7 linked regions of the Homo sapiens genome follow. The protein of the gene in region 4 purifies or fractionates together with the protein of the main gene of each other region. This does not show direct contact. Each region holds a gene or a part of one and is shown on either strand. Other genes may lie near its edges.

The links.
Region 1: the proteins of EMB (region 4) and KIAA0825 purify together in Homo sapiens (affinity purification with mass spectrometry; one large-scale study listed by BioGRID and IntAct). This does not show direct contact.
Region 2: the proteins of EMB (region 4) and NEXN purify together in Homo sapiens (affinity purification with mass spectrometry; one large-scale study listed by BioGRID and IntAct). This does not show direct contact.
Region 3: the proteins of EMB (region 4) and RLBP1 purify together in Homo sapiens (affinity purification with mass spectrometry; one large-scale study listed by BioGRID and IntAct). This does not show direct contact.
Region 5: the proteins of EMB (region 4) and FSAF1 purify together in Homo sapiens (affinity purification with mass spectrometry; one large-scale study listed by BioGRID and IntAct). This does not show direct contact.
Region 6: the proteins of EMB (region 4) and PPP1R9A purify together in Homo sapiens (affinity purification with mass spectrometry; one large-scale study listed by BioGRID and IntAct). This does not show direct contact.
Region 7: the proteins of EMB (region 4) and MAP9 purify together in Homo sapiens (affinity purification with mass spectrometry; one large-scale study listed by BioGRID and IntAct). This does not show direct contact.

What each region holds. Positions count from the first base shown.
Region 1 is NC_000005.10:94,612,105-94,615,604, forward strand, and holds part of KIAA0825 (uncharacterized protein KIAA0825), read right to left. Parts: intron 1-3,500.
Region 2 is NC_000001.11:77,912,624-77,916,123, reverse strand, and holds part of NEXN (nexilin), read right to left. Parts: intron 70-3,500; 5' UTR 18-69; coding exon 1-17. UniProt on the Homo sapiens protein: Involved in regulating cell migration through association with the actin cytoskeleton. Has an essential role in the maintenance of Z line and sarcomere integrity.
Region 3 is NC_000015.10:89,215,080-89,218,579, forward strand, and holds part of RLBP1 (retinaldehyde-binding protein 1), read right to left. Parts: coding exon 3,486-3,500; intron 2,246-3,485; coding exon 2,041-2,245; intron 160-2,040; coding exon 1-159. UniProt on the Homo sapiens protein: Soluble retinoid carrier essential the proper function of both rod and cone photoreceptors.
Region 4 is NC_000005.10:50,413,789-50,417,288, forward strand, and holds part of EMB (embigin precursor), read right to left. Parts: intron 1-3,500. UniProt on the Homo sapiens protein: Plays a role in the outgrowth of motoneurons and in the formation of neuromuscular junctions.
Region 5 is NC_000001.11:231,224,176-231,227,675, forward strand, and holds part of FSAF1 (40S small subunit processome assembly factor 1), read right to left. Parts: intron 2,894-3,500; coding exon 2,798-2,893; intron 2,651-2,797; coding exon 2,564-2,650; intron 1,349-2,563; coding exon 1,296-1,348; intron 240-1,295; coding exon 104-239; 3' UTR 1-103.
Region 6 is NC_000007.14:95,250,094-95,253,593, reverse strand, and holds part of PPP1R9A (neurabin-1), read right to left. Parts: coding exon 3,339-3,500; intron 1,833-3,338; coding exon 1,736-1,832; intron 1,636-1,735; coding exon 1,464-1,635; intron 1-1,463. UniProt on the Homo sapiens protein: Binds to actin filaments (F-actin) and shows cross-linking activity. Binds along the sides of the F-actin. May be involved in neurite formation. Inhibits protein phosphatase 1-alpha activity.
Region 7 is NC_000004.12:155,363,466-155,366,965, forward strand, and holds part of MAP9 (microtubule-associated protein 9), read right to left. Parts: intron 1-3,500. UniProt on the Homo sapiens protein: Involved in organization of the bipolar mitotic spindle. Required for bipolar spindle assembly, mitosis progression and cytokinesis. May act by stabilizing interphase microtubules.

The sequences.
Region 1 (3,500 bases), about 44 Mb from region 4:
CCTAACTGTTCTGGCTAACAAAACCGTATTATAAAATATAAGAAGATAGTGTAAGAACATATGACCCAAATGTTAGTATCAATGTCTGGCAGTAGGGATTATACTTTTCTTGAGGGCAGGAGGGGGTGGCACAGGGAGTAAAATTCAAGATTTGAAATTCAAATGTATTTGTAAGTTTTAGCAGATGACAACTGTTGATCATTTTTACTAATACCTAACATTGAATACCGTGGCAACATGGGATTCCTCTAATACATGACTTTGGCTTTTGGACTCTGCACTGGCCTAATTGAAGCTTTCTTAGAAGAGTGTAGCACTTTGATATTCTTACTCAACTCTTCTTTCTTCCTTCCTTCTCTTCTTTTTAGGCTGTCAGACGTGCATTGAGGCCTGAAGGCATTTCTTTCCTACTCTCACTCTCCTTCATTCTTCACAAGCAGTCTCCCCAATAAACATCTTGTACATCTTACCTCCTCTTGGCATCTGCTTTTTGGAGAATTTGAACAAATAAAGTGCCTTACTACACCAGGCACCATATTAAACTCTATACATGCATTATTTTATTTAATCTTCACAAAAGGCCTATGAAGACATCATCATTCCCATTTTACAAATAATGAAACAGTGGAAAAGTAACTTTCACACTGTCACACAACTGTGACTGTCACACAACTGTGACAGAGTTGGGATTCAAATCCAAGTCTGTTTGACTTCATAGTTAGAGCCACAGACCCTAATTTAAAACAGTGAGTTTATTAAAAACAAAACAAAACTAGAGACCTTAATAATTTTTTTCTGATGCTTGTGTACCTACACACAGTATTACATTTAATCCTAGTAAAGTTGATAGTATTACTTTACAGATGAAGAAATTGTGGCTCAGGGAATTTAAGTAACTTCTTCAAGGCTATCATTATATGTTCATGAGTTTAAGCTCAACCCCAGGTCCTCTCTGAATTCAGTTGTTTACATTATACTGCATTGCCTAATTAGTCAAAATGACATTGTCTCGTTTTGAACTTTTATAGTTGTTAAAACTTTTTATATGGGATGTATGTATTTCAAGGGATGCACTAAAGTTTGACCTTGTCCTCTGTATTTTTTTTGAGAGAGAATCCTTCACTCTGTCACCCAGGTTGGAGTGCGGTGACATGATCTCGGTTCACTGCAACATCCACCACCCGGGGTTCAAGTGATTCTCTTGCCTTAGACTCCAGGAGTAGCTGGGATTACATGTGCCCACGACCACACCCAGCTAATTTTTGTATTTTTTTGGTAGAGATGGGGTTTTACCATGTAGGTCAGGCTGGTCTCGGACTCCTTGTCTCAAGAGATCCGCCCGCATTGGCCTCCCAAAGTGCTGGGATTACAGGCATGAGTCACTGCGCCGGCCAATCTTGTCTTCTGTATTTTAACAAAGTCTGCATTTGGCTTTAGTGTTGGCTTTTAGAAAGTAAATAGTCAAAAAGGCCAGGTGCAGTACCTGTCATAAAAGTACTCAATCTAGGGAGGTCAGTAGGGGCTGAATCCAACCCATACTTTGTTGGCCCAGCCATGTGTCCCTGCAGGGCTGTTGCCATAGAGAAAAAGATGCCTTTTTCCAATCCTTACAAAAGTAGCATCAGTTACACAGTGTATATCCAAGAGTTATGGATCCTCCAGAAGGGGGTGCCCTTTTCTAATCATACAAGGTGCTATAAGGGCTAGCTGTGAGTCAGGAGGACAACGAGGTGAGAGGGAGGCTAACGCCTCATTATATACCCTTTCATACCTTATGAATTTTGCACCAAGTTTCAATTAAAAATTTGATTAATATGGCAATACATGTAAGTATTATATGTGTTCATATCCTGTGGGTGACCATTTCTCCTTCTACAAATTGTAATAAGAAAATAGATACGAATATGTCTAAATATTTTACTATAAAAACCTTTATTGTACTATTACTTAACAGAAAGAAGTCAGTTTAAAAGTTATAACATATTCATAAAATTGAATAGCATACAGGCCCTAAGTATTATTTTATAGAAGCAAATTTATTGACATGGAAAAATTCATGGTATAGCACATTGAAAAAAGCAGGTCACAAGACAATATAGACAGTATTATTTCATTTTTATTTTAAAAGCACATATATGCAAATCTGTAATACAGAGAAAAATCATAAGTTATTTCTGAGTGGTGGGGTCATGGGCCACTCTTCCTTTCTCTTTCCTTTTTGGCATATTTGTACACTCTAATGTTTCTGTAACAAATGGGCGTTTTTCCATAACAAAGAAAACAAATGCCAACTCCATCCTCCACCCCATCCTAGTTATACACACAGATTATTGCTTATCGTTAAAAGCCTAACATCTCTAACTTGCCCACAGTTATCTACAGCTTGTCCTAAACTCAGCTTTTTACCTCAGCTTTATTACCAGCCTTCATCCATCTTACATAGCCAAAGTGACCTAGGTACTATTTCTGTTTTCTGACACCTTTGCATCTTCCAGTAGAACACTTGTCCCTCTTGTTCCCCTGCCAAAATCCTTTCCATCCTATATGGCACAAACTCAATATTACCTTTTTTATGAGGTCTTTCCTCATCTGCCCTCCTGGAAAAAAAAAAATCTCTTTTCTTTGCATTCCCATGTTTTGTGTTCAATGATGTATGTAAATTGCCCTACATATAATTATTTGTTTATATAACTTTCTCTCTCCTAGTAGACTGTAAGTGAAAATATTCTTCACCTTTGTCTAATTTATAAAGCATTTTTCATATCCACTAATCTTTTATCCTTGCAAGACTGAGCAAGAAAAAGAATCAATATTTATTTATCAGCAATTGTGTATCAGACAACACGTTTGAGGCTTTATAAGTCAACCCACTTAACGCTCACAGCAATCCTATGGATCCATTTTACATATGAAAACATAAGCTCACAAAGGTTCAGTGACTTATTAGTGTCATAGCTGGTAAAAAAAAAAAAAAAAGCATGGCTGTGATTTTTTTAACTCTATTCTTCCTATTGCAAAAACATGATTGTGTGTCCACCAATGTGGAAGACGTGAACACATATAAAAGCTTACATAAAACACATCAAAATTGATGAGGGTTTTCTGGCACTCCAGAACTGCTATATTCAGATAATACTTAGGAGTCAACTAAAGTCAGAGGATTTTTGAGGTAGGAGGGACCTTACAGATAATATAATCCATCAAACTCCTATATGTTATAGATGAGAAACATGATACCCAGAGCTTTTGCACACATTTAGCAGCTGAACCAGGATTAAAAATTCAACTGGAGGCTAGCAAAGTGGTTAAGATTATCGCTTTTGGGATCAGAGCCCTTCATTCAAATCATAGCTGTGTTTAATGACTATGCGTAACCTACGACAATTTACAAAGCTTATCTTTGCCTCAGTTTTAGCATCTGTAAAAGGAGGATAATAATACTTACCCACTGTGCTGTAAGGAGTAATTTAACACTGAATAGCAGAGAATAAACACAGAAA
Region 2 (3,500 bases), on a different chromosome or scaffold from region 4:
TGGGAAATATCATTCATGTTTGCTCTATGTGGTCTTGGGCTGATTATGAAGCTCTGTATATATTTGCACCTGAAAAAAATTTATATTGTATAATAAATTTTAATTTATTTGTAATATATTATGTATTTTTATAAATAGAAATAGCAGTTAATTGCCCCTCAAAAAATACTGACATGATTCAAGCAAGTAATAAATTGTGATAACCTTTAGCTCTTTTTCCCAAGATTCATGGTATAGAAAACATAAGGTGCATGATGGTAAAAGATCCCTGAAAGTTTTTGATCCAGAATAGCTTGATGAACATACTAAGTTCACTTGAAAAGAATGTGTATTCAGCAATTACTGAGTGTATTACTCTATAAATATTAACTAGCTGAAGGTAGTTGATCATGTTTTAGATCTGTATTTTTACTAATTTTTGGCTATTTCTATCAATCTTCAACTATGTAGTTTTTTGTTTGCTTGTTTTGTTTTGTTTTGTTTTTGTTTTTGTTTTGAGATGAAATCTCACTCTGTCGCCCAGGCTGGAGTGCAGTGGCGCCATCTCGCTCACTGCAAGCTCTGCCTCCCGGGTTCACACCATTCTCCCACTTCAGCCTCCCGAGTAGCTGGGACTACAGGCGTGTGCCGCCACGTCCGGCTAATTTTTTGTATTTTTAGTAGAGACGGGGTTTCACCGTGTTAGCCAGGATGGTCTCAATCTCCTGACCTCGTGATCCGCCTGCCTCGGCCTCCCAAAGTGCTGGGATTACAGGCATGAGCCACCATGCCCGGCCACCAGCTTTCTTTTTATTTATACATTTATTTTTTAGAGACAGCATCTCGCTGTGTCACCCAGGCTGAAGTACAGTGGCACAATGACAGTTCACTGTACCCTTGAACTCCTGGGCTCAAGCGATCCTCCTTCCTCAGCCTCCCAAGTAGCTGGGACTACAGGCATGCAGCACTATGCCCAGCTCTTTTTTTTTTCTCTATAGAAATGGGGTCTCACTGTGTTGTTTAGACTGGTTTTGAAACCCTGGGCTCAAGCAACTCTCCCACCTTGGCCTCCAGAAGTGCTAGGATTGCATCCGTGAGCCACTGCATCTGGCCCCCAACTTTCTTAGGTTTACAGTTTGCATGGTATATAATTTTCTAGCTATTTACTTTCACTCTATCTATGTTTTTATATGTAAAGCATATGTCTTGGACACAGCATATGTTTGGACCTTGCTTTTTACAAAAATCAATTCTGATAAAATCTGGGTTTTCTTTTTTTTTTTTTTTGAGACGTAGTTTCGCTCTTGTTGCCCAGGCTGGAGTGCAGTGGCATGATCTCGGCTCACTGCAACCTCCGCCTTCCAGTTTCAAGCGATTCTCCTGCCTCAGCCTCCTGAGTAGCTGGGATTACAGGCTCCCACCACCACACCCAGCTAATTTTTGTATTTTTAGTAGAGATGGGGTTTCACCATGTTGGCTAGGCTGGTCTCGAACTCCTGACCTTGTGATCCACCCACCTAGGCCTCCCAAAGTGCTGGGATTACAGGCGTGAGCCACCGTGCCAGGCCTAAAATCTGTTTTTTTAATTGCAGCATTTAGTTCATTAACATTTAATGTAATTATTAATATCAATGAGTTTAGGCCTATCATTTAAATATTTATTTTAGGTTTGTTTTATCTTGTTTTGTTTTTTTCTTTTGGAATTTTCTAGCCAACTTTTTTTTTAATAGAGTTTATTTTAGGTTCACAGCAAAATTGAGTAGAAGATAGAGATTTCCTGTATATGTTCTGTCCCTGCACATGCTTAGTCACCCCCATTATCAACACTGGATAACCCCATTATTACCACCTATTGGAGTGGTACATTTGTTATAAATGATGAACCTATACTGACACATCATTATCACCCAGAGTCCATAGTTTACATTAGGGTTTACTCCTGAGTTGTACATTCTGTGGGTTTTGGGTAAATGTACAATGACATGTGTCCATCATTACAGTATTGCACAGAGCAGTTTCACTGACCTAAAAGTCCTCTTTACTCCACTTACTTATGCTTTTCTCCCCCATAATTCCTGGTAACCATGATCTTTTTACTGTCTTCATAGTTTTGACTTTTCCAGAATGTCATACAGTTGGAACCACACAGTATGTAGCCTTTTCATATTGACTTTTTTCACATAGTTATGTGCATTTCAGTTTCCTCTATGTTTTTCATGGCTTGATAGCTCATTTCTTTTTAGCACTGAATAATATTCTATTACCTGCATGTACCACAGTTTATCCATTCACCTACCAAATGACATCTTGGTTGTTTCCAAGTTTTGGTGTTTATGAATAAAGTTGACATAAATATCTGTATGCAGGTTCTTGTGGACCATGATTACTGGATTATATGGTAAGAGCATATTTAGTATTATAAGAAACCACCATGTAGCTTACCACTTTGCATTCCCACCAGCAATGAATGAGAGTTCATATTGCTCCATATCCTCACCTGCATTTGATGTTGTCAGTGTTCTGAATTTTGGCCATTCTAATAGATGTGGAGTGGTATTTCATTGTCATTTTTATTTGCATTTCCTTGAATATATATTAAATGAATAAATATTAAATTAGAATTATATTAAATAATATATTAAAGCACCTTTTCATATGTTTATTTGCCATCTGTATCTTCTTCAGTGAGATGTCTCCTAAGATCTTTGTTTGGTCCATTTTTTTTTTTTTGAGATGGAGTCTTGCACTGTCACCCAGGCTAGAGAGCAGTGGCATGATCTCGGCTCACTGCAACCTCCGCCTCCCGGGTTCAAGCAATTCTCCTGTCTCAGCCTCCCGAGCAGCTGGGACTACAGGCACCTGCCACCACACCCGGCTAATTTTTGTATTTGTAGTAGAGATGGGGTTTCGCTATATTGGTCAGGCTGGTCTCAAACTCCTGACCTCAGGTGATCCGCCCACCTCGGCCTCCCAAAGTGCTGGGATTGCAGGCGTGAGCCACTGTCCCCAGCCCTTTGGTCCATTTTTTAATTGGGTTGTTTGTATTCTTATTACAGAGTTGTAAGAGTTCTTTGTGTATTTTGGATAACAGTCCTTTATCTGATATGTCACTTGCAAATATTTTCTCCAAGTCTATGGCTTATTTTTTAATTCTTTTCACAGTGTCTTTTGCAGAACAGAATTTTTTAATTTTAATGAAGTCCAGCTTATCAATTCTTTCTTTCATGAATTGTGACTTTGGTATCATAGCTAAAAAGTGAACTCCAAATCTGAGGTCATCTAGATTTCTGTCTATGTTTTCTTCTAGGAGTTTTATAGTTCTATGCTGTAAGTCTGTGATTCATTTTGAGTTAATTTTTGTGAAGAATGTAAGGTCTATTTCTAGATTCAGTTTTTTGCAAGTGGATGTCCAGTTGTTCCAGCACCATTTGTTGAAAATAATCTTTTCTCTATTTTATTGCCTTTGCTCCTTTGTCAAAGATCAGTTGATTATATTTACGTGGATCTATTTCTGGGCTCTC
Region 3 (3,500 bases), on a different chromosome or scaffold from region 4:
GACTTTGCCAGTTCTCAATGTTGAAGAGCATGACCACTCGGCCATACTTGTCCCGACTAGAGAGGACACCAGGGTAGCCAGCTTCAATGGTGCAGCGGACAGCCTCTGGGGACAGGCTGTCAAAGAGCTCAGGGTACTGCAGCCGGAAATTCACATAGCCTGGAGGAAGGAGAGCAGAGGAACCCCCTCAGGGAGCCATCCCATCCCTACCCCATCCCTCCTAGTGGGACTCAGAGACCTGACCTCCTGCCAGGTCCTATGTGTGACCGAGCTGGCTACTCAACCTATCCGAGCCCCATGTTTCCTCTCCAAAAAATGGGATCTCGATATTGACCTATCTATTCTAGATAGTCTAGATAGTGGCCTATCTCACCAAATTGTTGTGGCAATCAAATGAGATTCAAGGTGTAAACATCATCATAAGCTTGGGCAAACATGAGGCATAGTCTTAAATATGAGGATAATCATTACTTGTTATTTTCTTCCCCATGGGGACAAGACACAGATTTTTCAGCTGGGCACAGGATAAGCTGAGTGGTGAGGTGTGCACAGGGCTGAGGAGAAGCTCCCAAGTAAAATCCAAACCCCAAGCAGGACACAGAGCTCCTGATTCCAGCAGCACCTCTACGGTCCACAAACACCATCCTTACCCATCCTGAGCAGTTCCCCACCTCTGTGGCCTGCACCACCAAATTTGAGCCCCTAGAGGACCTGGGCACCTCTGCCAAGAGACTGCCACATCAACTTGCTCACTGCTCTGGAACACTCTGGGCACCTCCCAACCCCTGGCCTTTGTCTTTGCTGTTGCCTCTGCCCTGGCTGCTCTTCCCCACAGATATCTCATTTCCTTCGGGTTTTTCTTCAAAATTCCCTTTGCACTGGGACTTCCCTGGCCACTTTATCTAAAACTTCAGCCCCTCAAGACTTTATATCCACCTCCTTAATTTCTTTCCTTATTCCTTACCATTATTTAACCCTATATAATTTTACTTTATTTATTGGATGTATTGTTTCCACCATTAGAATATGAGTTCCACCAGGGCAGGGAACTTGTCTGTTTTGTCTCCACTGCATCCCTTGGCCTAAAACAGTTCTTGGCACAGCATGGCCCTGAATTACCATTTGGAGAAGGAAGAAGTAGGAAAAGGAAAATCATTAGCCTGCAGAGGGCCCACTCAGACCCCATTTCCGTCCACCAGTGCCCAAGATTCGATTTCTTGAGGGAACCACCCCCTTTTTTTTTTTCTTTCTTTCTTTTTTGAGATAGAGTTTTGCTCTTGTTGCCCAGGCTGGAGTGCAATGGCACGATCTCAGCTCACCGCAACCTCTGCCTCCTGCGTTCAAGCGATTCTCCTGCTTCAGCCTCCCCAGTAGCTGAGATTACAGGCATGCGCCACCACGCCCGGCTAGTTTTGTATTTTTAGTAGAGATGGGGTTTCTCCACGTTGGTCAGGCTGGTCTCAAACCCCCGACTTCAGATGATCTGCCCGCCTTGGCCTCGCAAAGTGCTGGGATTACAGGCGTGAGCCACCGCAACCGGCCGATGATTTCTTGAGGCATCCTGTCTTCATCCAGCCAGCAGTGCCAGAGCGGTTCTGTCCCCGGGGTTCATTCCCAGGTCTGACACCATCTTCAGTTCCACTGCACATGAGGCTTAGGTAACTGCCCTGAGAGAGGCACTATCCACCTTCCTGCAGCATTCCAGAGCCAAAGCTTAGGTTCTCATGGTGGGGGTCTGGAGGGGAAATTCCTCCCCTCGTCACCCAAATGGGGTACCCAAGTTTTACTCATTGAATCCCAAGACTGGGAGAGAGTTGAGAGGACTCAGACCTCCAGAAATCTGCTCCTGACACACTTCATTCATTCATTCGTTCGCTCATTATCAGAGCTGACCCATTTTACAGGTAAGGATGTGGAGGCTCAGAGAAACTGACTTGCCCACAGTATGGAAGCAGGCCTGTTCAGTGCCAGGATGAGAGCGGATAGCATCCTCATGGCCTCCCGTCTTCCCAGGGCCGTCCCTCCAAGCACTGGCCTCACCTCTGAGCAGCTCATAGGCACGGCCCACGTTGAACTTCCGTGCGCGGATGAAGCGCAGGAAGAAGCCGCTGTCCTTCTCTTGCACCCTCTCCGCCACGGCCACCGCCAGCTCCTCCCCCGAGGCCGCCTGCGCCTGCACCATCTCCTGCAGCTCTCGCACTGCCTCCTCCCGGGTCTCCTCTCTCTCGTTCAGCTCATCCTTGGCCTAGAACAGGGTGGGGTGTGCATGAAGTTAAACTTAGGTGCGGGTGAGGGGCAGGACACACAGGTGATGAGTCTCCTGCCAGAGCTAGACCAGCCAAGGGGGCCCAGGGGTCTGCAGCCGCAGCTTTGCTTTTCTGCCCCAGGGGCAGCATCTGCACTGGCAACACCTGAGACTGTTGTGTGTGGAGAGAATTCGCATATTTGCAGAATATGGCCAACAGTCTAAAAGTTTCTAAAAATGACTGCCTACACTCACTGAGCCTTTGCCTAGCAACCTGCTAAGTCCTTTAAATGCACTGTGTTTTTTAATCTTTGCCACAGACCATCATGGTAGGTGTTCTTATCCCCAGCTCTCAGATGAGCAGACTGAGGCTCATAAAGGTGAAGATATTCTTGCTCAAGGTCACCCAGAGAGAAAGGAGTGGAGCTGGGACTCCTCTTTCCATCATTTCACTCTGCTGCCTCCCAGGCTTGATTCTGATTTTTTCAAAAACACGGCTCTCTGGCAGATGGCAGCCTGCCTCCTGCCCAGAGCCTCACATTCCTCCCCTCTGCTGGGTCAGGAGAACTCCTCCGTGCGCCTCAGGCAGCTCTCTCCTTGGACAGCATGAGGAGGGAAGGGAAAGGAGGGGGAGTAAAGTGTGAAGGAGCTAATAGCACCTTTCCCTTGAGATGCCCAAGGAAGCAGAGATGGAAGCTGGGTGCCCAGGCTCAGCTCAGCCACTTCTCATCCTCCCCAGCAGCCCTAAGACAGCTCTGTCAGCCTCCACAGAGCACAATCTGATCACCTCTGAGCTAGTCCACCAACCGTCTTTCATAGATACAGAAGGCAAGACCCAGAGATGGAAAGCAATCTGCCTAAGGTCACACAGCAAGCTGAAAGTAGGTCTGGTTCTGGAACTCAAGTCTCTTGCCTGTCTAGCAGGGGCAGCAGTTGGATCCTTGTTCCCCGGGGCCATTTCCAAACCAATGCTTCTCATATTGAGTCTAGTTTAGAGGGCCCTAGTTCCGAGGCTCTGGGCTGTAGTCTTGGGTTGGGCTGGCCTGGCTGGGTGTCTGGTCAACCCAGTTGCTGCCATAGCCGTGACCACCAGGAAGGACCTTAGAACCGGCCAGTCTATCAGGTCCAGGATGATCTGGAGTGCCGAGGCTGGACCCTTTTCACAGGAGAGAGAATGCAGTCATGTTCCCCTCATGTTGCCTCCCTAGGCTGCTCCTCTCCGCACTGTCAGCCACCTCACCTTCTGCAAGGTGTG
Region 4 (3,500 bases):
GCTAGTCTCAAACTCCTGACCTCAGGCGATCTGCCTGCCTTGGACTCCCAAAGTGATGAGCCACCGCACCTGGCCTGGTTTTTTCAATAGACAAATTTTAAAAGGGAGAGAGATGTCTTTGTATCGGACGTCAGGTGCTATGTTTGGGGCACCTGAAGATTATAAGATACTCAAAAAATACTATTAAAAGAAAAGCAAAACTGAACTGTAATATTTAGGGATGCATACCTGGGTAATAAAGCAATACAGAAAAGCAAGAAAGTGACTGCATAAAAATCAGAATAGTGGTAATTACTCTTAAGGGGAAGAGAAGGAGTTGTGTTTGGAAGACGGTAGTATATCATATAAACAAATTTCTCAAGCTCTTCTCATTCTCAATAATGGTATAGTATGATGAAATGTAGAATGCAGAGCCAAAATGTAGAAAGAAAAATAATACAACTCAAATAAAATGGTCAGGTGCAATGGTTCATGCCTGTGATCCCAGTAATTTGGGAGACTGAGGTGTGTGGGATTGCTTGAGCACAGGCATTCCAGACCAGCCTGGCCAACATGGTGAGACCTCATCTCCACAAAAAAAAAGAAAAAATTAGCCAGGCTTGGTAGTGCATGCCTGTGGTCCCATCTAGTCTCAGGTAGAGGTGGGAAGATCTCTTGAGCCCGAGAGTTGAGGCTGCAGTGAGCTAAGGTGGCACTACTGCACGCCAGGCAAGGTGATAAAGCAGGGCCCTGTCTCAGGCAAAAAAAAAAAAAAAAAAAAAAAAAAAATTCTATCACTTTTAATTACATTTGAAACTTTACGAAATGCTTCCATAAGCAAGGACCAGATGCAAGGTTTGCAGATAGTGAAGTACAGCTCGTGCAAAGTGCTTTGTGAGCACATGCTTGAAATAACTGCTTGTAAAATTGCAAAATTGCTGAATTGAATTTAATGCTCAAAAAGAAAAATAATATTTGATGTCTCTAGAATACATATATTGCCAGAGACTACCTTATTCCTTGCAGTTCCCTTTACTGTGCTCTATTTCACTATCCTAGTATATTTTAAACATTTTGCTAGCCACACCAAATTATTCCAACTACCTTTTAAATGTTGGTGCCCATCAGGATTTTGCTCTCTGGTCTCTTTACTTCTCAATTTGGCACTTCTTTGTTGGATTCAACTATTAACTCTAATGCTCTTTACTTGCAAAATTAGAACCTCCACTGAAGTCGTTTTTTTATTTTACAGCTCCAGGTGTCTACGGAGCATCTAAATCTGGATATCCCATGAGAACTTCAAACTCAAAATATCCAAGAGATCCATTAATATTCCCTTGTGCTGACCTATAACACTGAATCACATGCAGTAGTATTTAGTTGATTCTACCGCTAAAATGTCAAACAAATTTGCCCAGTTTTATCCAACCCTCCTATTATTGGCCTTCATTATCTTTCACCAAGACCAGGTAAATTATCTAATTTCTCTTGGCCAGCTTCTCTTGCTCCAACCAAAGGACAACTTTGGTTGGAGCAATTTAAGCAAAACTCAAATTGTTTAACTGCCTTGATTCTATACCTTGCATGTGCAAATCAAAGTATCTTTGTATTAGACATCAGTTTCCTTATTTGTAAGGTGGGACAATAATATTCCATGAGATTGTAAAAAGTTCTATCATAAGAAACGTCAACAGTAATATAATATAGCAATTAATAAATGCCCACTTACTTCTTCTCACCATTATCTCACTGGGGAATATTATAAAAACTATCATATATGGTGCTAAGGGTTATATGTTGATTAAATAATTTAATCTTCACAACAGCTTTATGAGGTAAGTATCACTGCTACAATTCCAACTTTAGAGATGAGGCAAAGAGAGGCTATTTTGTCTAAGATTACACATCAAGACAAAGGCAACACTGAATCTCAGATTTAGGTATGCCTGAGTCCAGACTGTGATAACCAACAGAATATACCAACTCTCAAACATATTAAATTCTCATTACAATGGAATTAACTTCATCACCTTCAAACTGTTGAAACAAGATTTTAAATAAAAGAAAATATTAATAGAAGATTAAAGAAATGTACAGTGTAGCTATATACCAATATGAATGCGATGATAAAATGAACAGTGCAATCAAAATATTTTAAAAATACACATTTTCAACTAAACATAGTTTTACATAACTTAAAGTGCAACACAGTTTTTCTTAATGGTAGGCCATCCTCCAAGCCCTAATCGTTGTCTCACTGTTTCCTATAATACTTTGCAGGTGCTTCTGCAGTTTGCTGTGCTTCTGCAGTTTGCTTTCCTTCCTGTCAAGAAATCACAGCATCAAAAACATGCAAAAAGCTCTACCTTTTTACATATTTTGTGGTTAGCCAACAAACTAATGTGAGCTCAGTCAACGATGTTTCAACTTCCTTAATACTGCACAACTGCAATGCATTTTTGCTGCTTTAGAGTGCTGCAAAAACATCTATGACATCTGCATTTCTAAAACGATAACAATTTGTTGTTTTTGAAACGTATTTTCAAGACTGTTCTTAAAACCATATAGTAATTTATACCTGTCTAAATAATTTCTTATTTTCATAGGTAACATTTTTAAAGTATATGGGCCTTTCAACAATTTGCAGTCTTCAGAGAAATGACATTTAGATTTTCTTGGGTCTATTCAGGACCCAATCTTGTAAACCATTTCACTAGAAATAAAAGTCTGCTTTGTTCTTTATTAAGAAAAAGAAAATATGGAAGAAGCCAATTAAAATTTATTGCATAGGATAGTGTTTCCAAACATGCTTTAAAGATAGAAACCCTTACTAAACACAGTTAAGTGAACTGTGACATATACGACGGATTCGATGGGACAACTCTGACAGAAGCCAAGATAGAAAATACAGAGCCCTATCAGCCTGACTTTTCATTATTCATAATGAGGTAGGAGGTGGAATGTGACTCTGGACCAGATTGAAGACTGACAGAAACAAGGAAGAGGCAACGAAAGATCCTCTCCGTAAGACACACCCACCAGCACCATGACAGTTTACCATTGCCATGGCTACACCCAGAAGTTACCATCCCTTTCCATGGCAATGACCCAGAAGTTACCTTCTGTTTTCTAGAAATTTCTGAATACCTTGTCCCTTAATTTGCACATAATTAAAAGTAGTATAAACATGGCTGCAGAACTGGCCCTGAGCTGCTACTCTTGACACACTGCCCAGGGGTACCCCTGCTCTGAAGGAGAAGTCACAGAGCTGTAACAACCCTGCCTCAATAAAGCTGATTTTTCTACCACCAGCTCACTCTTGAATTCTTTCCTGAGCCAACCTTCTCGGGCTAAACCCCAATGTTCGGATTCACCTGCCCTGTAATAATTTCACCATAAAAGTCAATAAAGCTTCATGATGCAACCCAAAATGTCTATTAAACATCCAGAATCCTTACAGAAACAGAAGGCCACACTAACATGAGGCCAACACCCCTATATAAAAATGATACAATGGATCT
Region 5 (3,500 bases), on a different chromosome or scaffold from region 4:
TGTGAAATGCGTGTTAAGAACGATCTATCTAGAGTCGCACAGGGTCCAGGGCCGCTGCAGTTGACTCAGTTGTTCCCATCCTCGTTTTATTTGACAAAGTACTTCATTTGGCCACTCTGGAAGAATTTATTTTCTTGATATCAACTGGGCTCAGAATCAGTGTTCCATTTTTGAATTTTCCAACCTGTCCAATCCGTCCATTTGACAAAATACTGGGAGCGGACTTCTTTTTGGATTTCCTACATTTAAAGTAAGAGAAAGGTACTATAAATAGTCAAGCTTACCAACAAGCATCACAGTACCACCAACCAGGCCACTGCAGTCTGGCCTGCAAACTCCTGGTCGCCTGCCATGCACACCCCCCACCCCATACGCCTTCCTGTGGTCCCTGAAACATGCTACTGCCTTCCTGCCTCAGGGCCCTTGCACTGGTTTCTTCTGCAAGGAATGTTCTGCTACCAGCTCTTTCCAGGCTGCCCCTCTTCTTTGTTCAGTTCTCAGCTCCGATGTCACCTCCTCAGACTAATTTCCCAGCTCACCTTCTCCCTGTGGTTTTCCTTCACAATGCTCTCTTTCAGCCTCTCTACAATACTTGCCAGTACCTGATATCATCTTACTTATCCATTTGTATGTTTTGGGGTGTTTCTCTCCCTACAATGAAGCTCCTCAAGGGCAGGGATATCTTTAGTGTGATTACAGCTGTACACCAATACCTAAGACACCCACATGCCTGGCACAAAGAGGCATTCAACAGATACAGATCGGTGGCCAGAACAAATGACCATTTTACAGCATGTACAAGTGCACTAGGAGCCCAAGAAAACAGGCTAAGACAAAAAGAGTCCATTCTGAAACAGTAACTCAAAGACAGAGAAAAAGGCATTTGAACAAAAGCTAACAAACAAGTATAAAGCAACAAAGTCAACATCCCTTATTCATAATTACGGTGCTCTATCTTACGTGGTATGTCAAAGAGCAGGCTATACAGACCCAGACTACGCTGCTGTAGCAGCACTCTTAGAAGTCTTTTCTTGGAAATGTAAACTGCAGCTTTTCCACTAGTCACTTAGAGTGTCGGTGAAAAGTGGAAGATTGGAGAAACTTCCTAATTCAGTTCTCAGGCAGTTGTTTGATCTTGGGCAGTTTACTAAATCCTACTTTGACAAGGATAAATGAGAGACAGTGAAGCGCTCTAATGGGCTAGCAACACCACATACATTCAAGGCGTCCTTGTCAGAACTCATCAGTAGGTTCATCCAGATTGTTCAACCCCAGGACCTGATAAAATCACTCACCTGTCCTCCTGTCCTTTCCTCTTCTTTTTCTTGAAAATATCTGTTTCTTGGGCCTGATTTCAGAATTTAAGATCATATACATATTAGTAGTGGATAATGGGATTCAAACAAAAGGCAAGAGGTTTGTGACCAAAAGTCATTGAGATACCATTTTTAACATTTCTTTCAAGTGGGCATATTAAACATAACAGTCTCAAAGTTTTACCCTAAAACCCTTTCAAGAATGTGAAAGGCTGGGCCTGGCGTGGTGGCTCATGCCTATAGTCCTAGCACTCCAGGAAGCCAAGGGGGGAGGATCACTTGATCCCAGGAGTTCAAGACCAGCCTGGGCAACACAGCAAGATCCTGTCTCAGTTAGAAAGAAAAAGACAAAAGAATGTGAATGGCTATTCCAGGTAAGACTAATAGTCTTACACTGAAAGCTCAAATCTTCCATTTTAGGTGAAAGGTAGAAAGTGTAACATCTATTCCCCTTGTGGTTTTTCATAGGCCCTTGTGTTGTATACAAGGTTATACAACGTAAAATGCAAAAAAAAAAAAAAAAAAAAAAAAAAACCTAAGTATAGAAGAAAGATCAAAGTAGCCTGCATTATTGGAACAGGATTGCTATAGTTTGGATAGCTGACCCTCCAAACCTCAGGTTGAAATTTGATCCCAACATTAGAGACGGGACCTAGTGGGAGGTGTTTGGGTCATGGCAATGGATCCCTCATGAATGGCTTGGTGCTGTCCTCATGGTAATGAGTGAGTTCTCCCTCTGTTACTTCCCACTTCCCATGAGAGCTGTTTGTTAAAAAGAGCCTGGCACCTCTCCCCACTGCTGCTTCGCTCTTTCATGTCTCGCTCTTGCCATGTGATCTCTGTACACATGGGCTTCCCTCTGCCTTCCCTCATGAGCGGAAGCAGCTTCAGATGCTCACCGGAGGCCGAGCAGATGCCAGTGCTATGCTTTCCATGCAGTCTGCAGAACCATGCTCCAAATCAGCCTCCTTTCTTTATAAATTACGCAGCATCAGGCATTCCTTTACAGCAACAAAAACGGACTAAGACAAGGAGTTTGCTATTTCAAAGCAAATCTTGCATGTAAGTACGCCAGATTACTTGGCTGGTATTACTAAACAGAGCTAACTCGAAGAAATGGGGAGCATGGGATCCTTTAACTCTGGTGCCTTCATTGCTCTCCAAGCAGCGGCTTCCGGCATTCCACTGTGGCAAAGAGCATCCATCTTCCCATTCTAGTTGAATAAAGGACAGACCATCACACCTACCAGTCTCTTTTCTTCTTCCTTTGCTGCCTTTTTTTCTTTAATTTGCTCCTGTAAAACCTTGTAATTCACATAACTCTTTTTAGGAGGCTGTAATGAAAGAACAAAGAAACAAACCATCATATTTTATTCTGCAAAAATGTTCCAGTGTCCCTTGCCCTGACTTGCTCTTAGCTTTCCTTGCTCTTGCTTTTTTTGCATGTTGTCTAGTGATGAAAGGTAGCAGCAGCCCCTCACCTTAGCGCCCAGCATAATGGCACGTTCCTGTTCCAGGATTCTCTCCTTTCCTTTTCCATAACCCGTGATACCAAACCGGTGCACTTCTAAACGAGCCTGCGGACACAAAGCATAATCAGACGCAAGTGCATTCCAACAACTCCAAAGAAAAAAACATACTGCCAGAAGTAATGCATTTCAGATCCACCGCTCTGTAATGACAGCGTACAGGAATAATAACTCCACTGTCATGTGGTCAAAGGAGCTCTATGGAGGCTCTCCTACCATACACCATCTCTCACAACATCTTTCTCCTGTTTTTTTTCCTTTGAGACAGGGTCTTGCTCTGTTACCCGCCAGGATGGAGTACAGTTAAAAAGAGGCATGATCATGTCTCACTGCAGCCTTGACCTCCTGGGCATGTGATCTCCTGCCTCAGCCTCCCGAGTAGCTAGGACTATAGGCACGCACCACCACACCCAGCTAATTCTTAAAAAATGTTTTATAGAGAAGAGGTCTCACTATGTTGCCCAGACTGGCCTTGAACTCCTAGGCTCAAGTGATCCTCCCACCTCAGCCTCCCAAAGTGCTGGGATTATAGGTGTGAGCCACCGTGCCTGGCTCTCGCCCACGGTTTTTTTTTTTTTTTTTTTTTGAGACGGAGTCTCACTCTGTTGCCCAGGCTGGAGCACAGTGGCATGATTTCAGCTCACTGCAAGCTCTG
Region 6 (3,500 bases), on a different chromosome or scaffold from region 4:
CCTGAAGTCACACAGCTCCTCACTTAGTCGTAATGCTAATGCTAAATCCTCCTCTTTCAGCTGCCTAAGAGGCACTATTTATAAATTACATCCTATTTAGGGAAAACCCATTAGAAGGATATAAACCCAGTGAATGGATTCAAATCTCTAGATATCATTTTAATTTTAAATGAAGATTTCTAATCCTTTCCATTTTTAATGGCTAAGAGCTTAGTTCTAAAAGTTCATGATAGGATATAAACACTTGCTTATCAGGAAAACTTCACTGGAGACAGTTTAATATGTGAGAAAGATCACGAAAAAACTAAAAAGCCCATTATAACAGGGTTTTACTGCACGTCAAAGTGTTGCCTCTGAGTTGTCGGTCCTGTCATGACAACCCTGCTGCACCACATTCTTTTATTTTCATTTTCCAGGGACTACTATGTATATATTTAAAAAGATGAAGCCACACATTCCTGTGTATTTATCTTTATAATTATTATGTGTTTTCTAATTTGCAAATATACCACAGATATTAAAACAGTCATTCATGTTCATACACGTGCAATCTAAGAATGTTGTGTGTGTAAGAACATAAGTAATTTATTTATGGTTGGTGTATGAATGAAGATAATCATTTATAATACCAAATGTTTCCAGTGTTTTGGTCTTACTTGGTCTTTGACATGAAAGACCTAAGAAGTATACACAGTACACCATGGTAAAAGCACAAAACTATATGGACTTCGTTAACTACATGAATCTCAAGTGCTGAAAGCAGCAGTCTGCCTTCTGATATTATGAAAAAGATCTTTATTCTAGTGACTTAAACATTCTAAAGCTTGGCTGGGCGCGGTGGCTCATGCCTGTAATCCTAGCACTCTAGGAAGCCAAGGCAGGTGGATCACCTGAGGTCAGGAGTTCGAGACCAGCCTGGCCAACAAGGCAAAAGCCCACCTCTACTAAAAATACAAAAATTAGCCAGACGTGGTAGCACATGCCTATAGTCACAGCTACTGGGGAGGCTGAGGCATGAGAATCGCTTGAACCTGGGAGGCGAAGGTTGTAGTGAGCTGAGATTGCACCACTGTACTCCAGCCTGGATGACAGAGTGAGACTCTCAAAAAAAAAAAAAAAAAAAAAATCTAAACCTTAGTCATTAACACATAAGTAGTGTAGTTCATCCTAGATAGGATGAACTACAATTTGTAAGGCAGTTTATTAAATCTGTCAATTGTATGATGATTTTAAAATAGTATTTGGCTTATCTTTAGTTGTGATTTGTTAATGCTACATATTAAAGTATTTATTTTTGATAAGACGAGAGCTAAAATGATTGACTCCTATTTTGATAAGCCTTTTCTTCTTTCCCATAGTAGGAAGGTATTTCCAACTTTTAAATCTCTGGGTCAGAAAAAGAAAAATAAAAGGCCAAATTACACAGTCATCAAAAATGATTTTTGTGGTTGGGTTAAACAAACCTTGACTTAGGCCATCTTGGCAAGATGTCTGCTTGCCATCCAAGTTCTCCATGGTATCCCCTTTAGAGACTTCACCAAGAGATGTTCTTCTCTCAAAGATGTTGTTATTATTGTTAACTTGAGTCCCATTTTGCTTCAGTAGCCTGAATACCTCAGCTTCCAAATCTCTAATCTAGGAAAAACAAATCCATTTATAAAACTCTAAACTAGCGCTCCCCTCCAAGTACAGCAAAACCATCTTATTATTTAGTGTCTTAGGGAACACAACTTACCCGCACTTGGAGGCCTTGCACTTCCACAAGATGAGCTTTTTCCAAATCTTCTATTTTCTTTCTTTCTGCTTCCTGTCTTTTGATGAAATCAAGCTCTCTTAAGAAGAAAATAATAGTTCTGATTATATCATACACTCAATAAATGAAAGTTCTTATCTGAAACAATAAACTGCATAGTAGGATAAGCAACTGAACAGTTATTTAAATGGACAACATTCAATCAGTTAGAGGAAAAAGTATAGTAATGAAAGAAACTAAAACATCTTTAATGGGTCACAAGGCAAAGAAAAATGATTCGATTCTGCTTACTATAATTTTCTTTCGTAGCTCCTGATTCTAGAACACCCATACATATTTAGATAGGAAAGACTGCACTAATGACCCACATTGGGTAATTTAGTGGAGATAATTACTTGTCAGGTAGAAATAATTCCATTTTTCCAATGTCATAAGCATAGTATAGTAAACTGATGTAACTAGATAAGAGTTCGAAAAAGATAATTGTAAGATTTCTATGAATAACAGTGAAGAGGGGGCTGGGTGGGTCAGAAACATCGAGAGGGGCACTCACTTATAGACCTAAGGATAATATGGGGAGAAGAGAAACAGTTCCATTTTGAAAACCTGGAATAGAATATGCAAATTTAGCAAAATTTACTATAAAATTATTTCATGAAAAAGAGTTTGGCAAATAGTTAAAACAGTGATGTATTGAATTTATAGTCACAGAGAATAATTACTCCCCTTTTAACAAGAAACTTTTGATAGCAAAACTCTTTTAAATATTAAAAACATTCTTCCACATAATAGGAAATAAAAGAAATATGGTTAATCTTACATATATGCTTAGCTTCTGAGGCTTGGCATGGAAGACCAGAAAAGGTACTGGTACTACTTATTTGTTCTAACTAGCCAGAAGTAACTGATGAAAAAAATCTAGTAAAAATCTCCGTGGTCAGTCTCCGTGACATTACACCGAGATCCAAGAGATGGAAGCAAAGGAGCAGTAGCTCAGAAACAGCTGTTGAAAATCAAAAGCAGAATGTGGTAATGGTCTCTCTCCCTGCAGTGAAAGGAGGCCCTCCTGATTCTCTCAACAGCTGAGAAATGCAGAGTGGCAGGGCAGGGGGCCTTGCTAGTCGATATGTGCACTGTCTGTAGTGGGAAATTCTGTAGTTACTGATCTAAGAATAGAGAGGAGCAGCCTGATTCAGGCCCCAGCTGTGGCTTGCGTGCTCCACATCCAATAGTCAGTCATTCTACATGACTTTCCGCTGGGCTTCTTGTTTCTAAATCATAGAGGTGTTTCAAAAAGAATAAAGAAATTCAGATGTTTTAACAGTTATAAACAACGATTAATTATCAAAAATAGCAAAGAGGCCCTGGCAGCCAAAAACTATAAAATATACAAAACATAATCTCATGAAAAAGTGATAGAAGTGACTTCCAAAACTTAATGTGTATTTATGCTGTAACTATGCTCCTGGATAGGAAAGATATCTCTAAGGTCATCTTTTCTGTTCCACTAGATATTACAAAATTATTGGACATAAACCTTCTTTAGACAAACATAACTATTCTTTAGTTATTAGAAGCGGCTTACTTTTGTTGAAAATCCTTGATCAACTTCTTTGCCTTGTTGTATTTCTTTTCCAAGGCCTGATACTGGCTTTGAGTCTCTTTGAGATGCTCATTCACTGTGTGGCATAATGTTTGGGCCTCAATCCAGTAGCTTTCCAACTTCAACATTCTTTCCTTATTCTCT
Region 7 (3,500 bases), on a different chromosome or scaffold from region 4:
TTTAGAGTTAGCAGACAAGGACTTTAAAATAGCTAATATAAATATGTTCAAGCACTTTGGGGAAAATATATGCATGATGGCTGAAAAGATGGGGGATTTTATATTAAAAAACAGAAAAAATACCAATAGAAAATCTGAAGTTGAACACCACAATAAGTGAAATAAAAAATTCACCTGGAAAACACACATACTTTGCAACTGCAAATGGAACTCTCACGACATACCCTTTTGCTGGGCCATTAAAACAAAACAAAATAATTTAATACAATTTGAAATCATAAAAGATACATTCTCCGGACCACAATCTGTAAACGTGAAGACTAAGTAATACAAGTTATTCAATCTTAAAAACAAAGAGGAAAAAAGATTTAAGAAATATAAACAGAATCTCAGAGATCAGTGAGATATAGCACAAATTTCAATGCATGTGTAACTACAGTACCAAAAGGAGAGGATGAAAAATAGGGTGGGAAATAACAATCTTCCCATTTCACAGACAGTATCAGCTTATAGGTTTGGAAAGCTCAACAAACGTCAAGCAGAATAAACATAAAGAAAGCTAGACCCAGGCACCATGCAGTCAAATTGCTGTAATCAAAAGATAAAAACCACAATCTTGAGTAAAATTCCTGACAGCATTCAGACAAAATCAACACATTATATAGAGAGGACAATGAAATGAATGATTACAAGAGAGGCCAATAAAAATGGAAACCTATAAAGAGCTGGAGGTAGAAGAAGGCAACTGTTAGACAAGAAGAATACAATCACATCAACCACCATTTGAAAACAAAGATGAGACAAATACTTTTAGAAAAGCAAAGACTGAGAAAAATCCATCACTAGTAAACCTGTATTACAAGAAATGTAAAATAAGTTTGTAAGACTGACAGGACACAAAATGGTAATCTGAATCTACAGGAAGAAATGAAGATCCCTAGAAATTGTATATGTATTTATAGATATGTAATATCTATAAATAGATTATATAGATGTTATATATCTATATAATATATAAGAATAGAATATATATTACCTATATATAGATATTGTCTACAAATATATATTATCTATATTTAGCAATAGAATGTTATCTATAATATATACAATATATAATACAGTAGATATATAATATATATTTATTCTAGCCTTCTTTAATTTTTTAAAAGTCTAATACAAAAAACTGAAAGGGCTCTTTAAGAAAAAGTTATAACTCTATTGTGGGGATTATAGGATATGTAGATATAATATATGACAATAGCACAATGGATGAGGGAGTATATGGAACTATATTATTCCAAGGTTTCTAGATCAAATGTGAAACAATACAATATCAATTCTAAATAGATTGTGATAATTTTCAGATATATTCTGTAATCCACTGATCAACTCTGAGAAATACAATGCAAACAAATATAGATAAAAGGTCAATAATAATAAAAAACTAAAAGATTCATGATTATCTCCTCAAAAAAAGGCAAGAAAGGAGTAACAGAGAAACAACAATAAAAACAATAATTTTAAAAAACAGATAAATAGAAAATAAAGAGCAACAAATTGCTCCTAAATCCAATCATAGCAGTATTTACATTAAATGGACAAAACATTCATAAATGGACTAAACACTACATTAAAAGGCATAGATTGTCAGACTTAATAAAAAAGTGACACCAAACTCTTATTGTAAGAGATTCACTTACATGAAAAGACAGAATTAGTTTGAAAGAAAAAAGATAGAAAGCATATACCATGGAAACACTTGTCATAAGAAAGCTGAAGTATTACACAAAACAATCTATAAGATAAGGAAAGGAATATTACCAGAGGTAGAGACGTTTCATAATGCTCAAAACATAATAATAATAAATGTGTATGTGCCTGATAACAAAGTTATAAAATACTGACAGAACTAAAGAGAAGTATAAACAAACCCACAAACATAACTGGATATTTTAATACCCCTAAGTTGGTAACGGGTAAACAAATTGGATGAAAAATCAGTAAGGATAAAGAAGATCTGAATGATATTACCAACCATGTTGACCAAACTTAAATTATACAACATTATATTCAACACCTGGAGAACACATCTACTTTGCAGATGCAAATGAGACTTTCACAAGATACACTAAAGCTGGGCCATTTAGAAATAATAATAATAATTTTTAAAAATTTGAAATCATGTAAGATACATTCTCTAGACTACAACAAAATTAACTTATAATTAACATCAAAAGTATATCTAGAGAAAAAACAAGTATTTGAAAATAAAATAAATCACCATAAAATAACCAACTGGTCAAAAAAGAGATCACAATGATCACTATATATTATATGTATCGAAAAATCACTATGTACCCCATGTACAATTATTATTTTTCAACTAAAAAAATAAATTTTTAAAACAGGAGATCACAAGGGAAGTTAAAATATATATTTAAAGAAATGATAATAAAAATAAAAGGCATCAAAAAATCGGGGCCACTAAAGCAGTACAAAGAAGAAAGTTTACACCTTTCAACAGGTTTAGCAGAAATCACGAAAATCTTAAAAATGAATGAGAAAATTTTCAAATCTAAAGATAAGCAAATTAAACCAAAAGAAAGTAAAAGAGGCCAGGCGCCGTGGCTCACGCCTGTAATCCCAACACCTTGGGAGGCCGAGGTGGGTGGATCACGATGTCAGGAGATCGAGACCATCCTGGCTAACGCGGTGAAACCCCGTCTCTACTAAAAATACAAAAATTAGCCAGGCATGGTGGTGGGTGCCTGTAGTCCCAGCTACTCGGGAGGCTGAAGCAGGAGAATGGAGTGAACCTGGGAGGCAGAGCTTGCAGTGAGCTGGGATTGCACCACTGCACTCCAGCCTGGGCGATAGAACGAGACTCTGTCTCAAAAAAAAAAAAAGAAAGTAAAAGAAATAATACTGAATAATACTGAAATAATACTGAAAATCAATTAAACAAACAATAGAGAAAATTATTAGGTTGGTGCAAAATGATTGCGGTTTTTGTCATTGAAAGTAATGGCCAAAACTGCAATTACTTTTGCACCAACATATGACAAAGCCGAAGTGGTTCTTAAAAACGTTTAATAAAACTAAGCAATGCCTATCAAGATTTAGCACGAAAGACACAAAACACAAATTATATATGTTAGAAATAAAAATGAAATGTCATGATAATCCTAGTCATCAAAAGAATGAGGGACTATCGTGAACAACTCTGTTTATAAACTCAACATATCAGATGAAATGGACAAACTTCTTGATAGACACAATTACCAAACTGGCAAAACAGAAAATGTGAGTACTGAAATACCTATTTAAAAAATCAAATGTAATGCCAAAGATGTCTCCACACAGAAAATTCCAGGCCCAGATAATTGTACTGGTGAATCCTCTCATTTAAGAAAATAATGATACCAAACTTTTATAAAATGAAGAAAAGACACTCCCCAACTCATTTGATACCCAAGCCTGATGGTAACATTATAAGAAAA